Regions from separate parts of the Homo sapiens genome. Here region 1 is linked to region 2. Evidence: fine-mapped expression QTL. A gene starts in region 2. The other region holds a variant in brackets. All regions are shown on one strand. Distances are from middle to middle. Region 1 overlaps UBP1 (upstream binding protein 1). Region 2 holds the start of FBXL2 (F-box and leucine rich repeat protein 2).

Region 1 (3,032 bases), 120 kb after region 2:
ACACCTGACACACATGACATCTCCCTCTTCTAGGGGCAGCTTTTGTGCTAAGACCGGATTTGGATCTTAGCTCACCTGACTTTTAAAACAGTCTATGAATGTATGATCTCTTCTCAAATAATTTTACATTTAGGAATCCCTCCTCTTTAATGTTGGAGCCACCTAAGCCTGGTCCTGGCTCTTTTCATATTCTCTCCCTAAATGACCTTAACAACTTCTACAGCTTTGAGTCACTGCTGATATGCTGAAGGTTTCCAAATTTACATCTCAAGCCCAGGCCTCTTCTCTGAGCCCCAGACTGGTAATAGTCAACTGCCTACTTGACATTTCTACATATCCAAAATCAAACTCTTGGTTGATTTACCCCAACCATACTTACCTCTTCAATGAGATCACCATCTGCCCAGTTACTTTCCACAGAAAATAAGGTGTCAGAACTATTCCTCCCTCAAAAGTGGAGCCCACTGGGACCCTGTCTATAAACGTGTAAGATACCATCACCTTTCACCTGGATATCTCCTGCCTCGTTTTGCCACCTTCTCATCTGTCTCCACAGAGTTGTGAAAGTGAAAGAAAAATCTAGTCACATTACTACTCCTTTGTTTAAACAACTTCAGTGACAACCCAATGCATTTCAAGTAAATCCGAACTACCATCATCATCCGGTCCCCGCATGCCAGACCCGGCCTCCTGCTTTGATTTGCCCTGATCCGCTCACCCTCACACACTGCATGGCACCTACATGGCCCACTGCCAGGCTTTCCAAGAAGCCAGGTGTTTTCTTTGCACACAGCCCCACGTTGCCTGGGGATGCTAATCCAATGGCCAGCTCCCGCTTCTTCTCATTCTTCAAGTCTCAGGATTAATAACACCTCCTCAGAGAAGCCTTGCCTTACAGTTTCATATTCCCCTCAACCCAGATCTCCCTTATCCATAAGTACCCCCACACTTTCCTGTTCCTTCATGGAACTTAACATATTGGGAATTTTGTGTATCTCTTGGCCAATTTTGGTTTGCTTTCCCCAATAGGAGTTTCATGGATTCTGTTTTATTCAATAGATCCACTGAGCGACAGAAGCACGGTGTCTGACACAAAGTGCTCAGTAAGACGTTGGCTGAATGAATTGAGATTTTTTTTTCCAGTCATCTAGAAAGACTGACTCCTCTTCCTTATATGCTAATTTCTGTTACAACCACTAGAAATATTCTCATTTATCAAACTTTCTTCTTAAAATGAGTAAAGCAATCATTTTAAAGAATAAACACGAGAGGCACTAATTAGAGGCACACACCATCTCTCATGATTCCAGCATTTTAAGACACACACACATGCAAAGTACCTTTTACTGTGGAGAATAAAAAACAACTCTCATCTTGAAAATTCTGAACCATCTGGAAGGATAAAGTAAATGC[G/A]TAAGTACAATTAAGATCCAACTGTCGTTTCTTAAAATGATTTTAAAACAGTAAATATTCTTCTCAAACAAACACAGGACTCAATGGCCAAAACGATAATTCATGAAGGCAGTGTGAGGCAGCAAAGATGCACACGTGCTGCACTGCCTTGTGTTCACTATGCCTGTCCATAATGGTCCCTGAGAGACCTGGTCAGTCACCCATGTGACCCACAGGGGCACATTCCCTGCCGGCTCCAGTGGATGATGACTCGAACAAAAATTGCATAAAGTGCTCTTCTATTATTACTTGCCACCAATCACTAGGGGAAAAATTATATATCTTACATGTTTTTTTAAATTAGTCATCAAATAATAGACAAAAGGAAAACACATCCAGTGACTCACCTCATAAAAAGGGCCAAAGCCTGCCACTATCCCTAGAGTGCCCCAGTGATTGGCTGCATCCTAAAGGGCTGGGGGGAGGCTAAGCCAGTTTTCCTTGGCTTGTATTCCATATTATCACTAGGATGCCTGAAACTCTTGGTTATAAGTTCTTCCAAAGTGATTCCCAACTCTCTGAAAATGATTCTCATAAGTATTTTCAAAAGAGGTCACAGAATTTTTCTACAGTTCTACAATTACATGTATAAAAGTAAATACCAGTCTGAAAAGGAAAAACAAATGATTTGATTTACCTGATCACTAACAAGAATGTGAATACCGGTGGGACCCTGTCTGTAAACCTGATTAATTTGGTGGAGAGGGATATTAAACACCAGCGCAAGTTTTCGAGCAACTTCTGAGGCAATCATTTCTTCCAAGTAGATTGCATGATAAACTGAAATTAAAAAAAAAAAAAGAAAAGCATTTTAACAGTAATCTTTGATCTGTTTTCTGCCTGATCTGTAGGATCTGTACGAAGGTCACACCTTTCAAAGTACCAAAAAAGTAAAAAAACATTTTAAATGGGAATAAACTATTTCTTTCCCCCATCTTACTACCTTGAAATCTTGAACTACCAATCTAAAACGTAAGAATACATTATTTATATCCACAAATATAATTTAATAAACATTAACAGAAATCCCTGGACAAAAAGATTTGAGGTTTGAATTTTTCTTCATATTTTTATTCAATGAATATAGTTTCATGTATTCAAAATTTAAAAACAGGAATTGGCTGCAAATGGACATGGGGGATCTTCTTGAAATAATGGAACTCAAACTGAATTTTGACAATGGCTGCCAAACTCTCTAAATTGGCTAAAATACCATTATATACTTACAATGGGAGGACTTTATGGTATGTAAATTATGCCTGAAGAAAGCTGTTTTTAAAAATAATATATACTTCATGTATTTCTAGCAATATACAAAAAGAACCCTAAAAGAGTCATAGTTCTTTTTGTTTATTTTTTTAAGACAGTGTCCTTTTTTGTTGCCCAGGCTGGAGTGCAGTGACACAATCACAGCTCACTGTAGCCTCTGCCTCCCAGGCTCAAGCAATCCTCCCACCTCAGCCTCCTAAGTAGCTGGGACTATGGTGGGGGCACACGCCACCATGCCTGGCTAATTTTTATTATTATTATTATTATTATTATTATTATTATTTGTAGAGACAGGGTTTCACCATGTTGCC
Region 2 (2,500 bases):
CTGCTTCAGCCTCCCAAAGTGCTGGAACTACAAGTGTCCCATCGCACTGGGTCCTTCTTCATAGAGTTAATGGACTAGATTTCAGGATATCTAGAGTTCCCTTCAACCATATTAAAAACATTCAACAAATTGCCAGTTGATTTAATGAATTAGACAACATGCATAGAATGCTATTCCATTAAGTGGTATGCAAAGATAATAATTTTTTTTTTTTTTTTGAGACGGAGTCTTGCTCTGTCGCCCAGGCTGGAGTGCAGTGGTGTGATCTCAGCTCACTGCAAGCTCCACCTCCCGGGTTCACGCCATTCTCCTGCCTCAGCCTGCCGAGTAGCTGGGACTACAGGCGTCCCCCACCATGCCTGGCTAATTTTTTGTATTTTTAGTAGAGATGGGGTTTCATCGTGTTAGCCAGGATGGTCTTGATCTCCTGACCTCGTGATCCGCCCGCCTCGGCCTCCCAAAGTGCTGGGACTACAGGCGTGAGCCACTGCGCCTGGCCCCAAGATAATCATTTTTAATCTAAAAAAGTAGATTATAAAACAGTTACCTATGGTTTGCCACCATTTTTAAGAATACAGTATATTATAACAACTCATTGGAAGCTTGAAGCAGATAGAATGGAATCTGAGCAGTAGCTACTTCAGGTGCTGGGGTGAGTGTCGTTTTATCCTTTTAAATTCTTGTTATTGGTAATTTAAAATGTTTTCAATAATCATGCATTACCTGTATAACGTTTTTTTTAAAAAAAAAAAAATCCATGGTCTCTTTCAGCTGGGCAGTCTGCGGCTGGGTAATCTGTCAGGTGAGGGACATCAAGGTGATCAGACTGAGAGGATGGACCAGATACGAAGTGGGAGAGGCGAAGAGGCCCAGTTCCAGGGCCGGGGGCGAGGGGTGGGCGGTCCAAAGGGCACCGCCCCTGCGGGTCACGTGCTCGCCGACCACCAATGGCCGCCTCCGAGCCCACCTTGGGGACGGGGCGGGGCGCCTGGCTGGCGTCACCAGGACAACGGGCGTCGCCGGCGCCGTGTGACTTCGGGCTGTGGGCTCGCTCGCGGCTCTTCGGCCATGGTGAGTCTGGGACCCGCGTCTGCCTAGCTGCCCCGCCCTACCCCTACCGGGCTGGGTCCGCACGCCGCCGCCCGCTAGGGTCGGGCAGGCGGCGCAGGGGTCGTGGAGAGGCCGGGCCGCGGCCTGCGAGGCTGCTGGGCAGGGCAGGGCTGGGCGGGCCCGGGGAGGGGTAACCTGGGGGATTCAGAGCGCCCGCCTGCCGGGGGGCGACCGCGATGCAGCGTTCCCTGCCGCTGGAGTCGGGGTGACAGCCCGGACCCCCACCCAGTGGGCCGCCGGACGACGTGACGCTGTTTGGCCCGAGAGAGCCTGGGAAGCCACCCAAGGAGGGTGTGGTTAAAAAAAAAAATCTTGTATATGGATATCATATGTATTTATATTTACACTAAAGCAGTCTATATGCCTCCAGTTTTGTTTCTATGCAGTTATGTGTAACTAATATAAGACATATATCTTCCTTTCAAAATCAGCATTCTGATAGGTTTTTTAGCACGTGGAAATTAAAATTTTTGATTTTAGAGACCCCTCCCCTCCTTTCTAAAAAATAGAGGGCATTAAGCTGGAGGGTTTTTTTTTCTGAGTGCCGCACCCTCACTAAGGGATTTAATTAATTCATAATTAGTGCATTGTAAACGTCTTAAATCATTACCTTTGTTCAGTTAACTTCAGACGGCGTGGGCATAACACCTGGCCCCCTTTAAGCTCGTTTTAAAAACGTTGCTCGGTTTCACTCGGCGGAGGTGCTGGCTTGAACAGACAAGTTCAGAGAATTGCCAACCGAAGGCATAATTCTCCAGAGGCCTTCACGGGGTGTAAGAGAAGAGAGGAGCTAGACTCCTTGCTTGGGGACACACCCTTGGTATAGAATACTTGAGGAGGTATGGCGGTAGGTGTAGGTAATAGGGAAATACTTAGTTTTGTTTTAACCATGAGTAATTAAGTGGAGATTTTCTCCTTATCTGCAGGAGTTTAGTGGAAGTGCTGATGAGCTGAGAATGCAGGGTGCTCCCCGAGTGCCAGCTGGCCTCATGGAGAAAAAACTATCATTAGGAATCCTGGCTGGCTCAGTTTTTTTCTTAATAACCAAGGAGAGGGATGGTGGTGGGAGGTGGATGGTGTCTCTCATTGACTCTGGAAAAGCAACTTCCAAATGTGTGGCATTATTGCTGGCAGGAGAAAAACATCACCCATAAATCACAGTACCATGTAATGCCTTTATTTTGTGTATGTTTCTTTTTTAAATTGCGAATTGCTTTTTAAGTGACAAATTAATGGAGCTGGCAAGAGTTTCAGAAACTGAATTTTATGAAGATATAAGTGTTTCAAATATTGCAGTAATTTACTGTAATATGTTATATGTGAGAAAAGCCCTAACAATTGTAGCAAGGAGAAAGAATATCCAGGAATTAATTTTTCACAGCTCTCTGAA

Evidence for each region. PIP is the estimated chance that this variant, and not a neighbour inherited with it, causes the effect.
Region 1: its variant is fine-mapped to the expression of FBXL2 in thyroid (GTEx, PIP 0.97). The same link has a PIP of 0.9 or more in nasal epithelium.

The regions. Positions count from the first base shown.
Region 1 is chr3:33,391,223-33,394,254 of GRCh38, forward strand. It overlaps UBP1 (upstream binding protein 1), which reads right to left. Exons shown (of 16, transcript NM_014517.5): 14 at 2,090-2,232; 15 at 1,341-1,392. It also overlaps a transcript of FBXL2 not described here. Among named protein-coding and RNA genes, the nearest start is that of UBP1, 48 kb to the right of the region's middle. The variant G/A (reference allele first, on the strand shown) is at 1,414.
Region 2 is chr3:33,276,445-33,278,944 of GRCh38, forward strand. It overlaps FBXL2 (F-box and leucine rich repeat protein 2), which reads left to right and starts at 998. Exons shown (of 15, transcript NM_012157.5): 1 at 998-1,071. The coding sequence starts at 1,069. It overlaps LOC124909362 (a long non-coding RNA gene), which reads right to left and starts at 910. Exons shown (of 2, transcript XR_007095861.1): 1 at 724-910. RefSeq lists silencers at 819-888, 953-1,120, 1,089-1,268.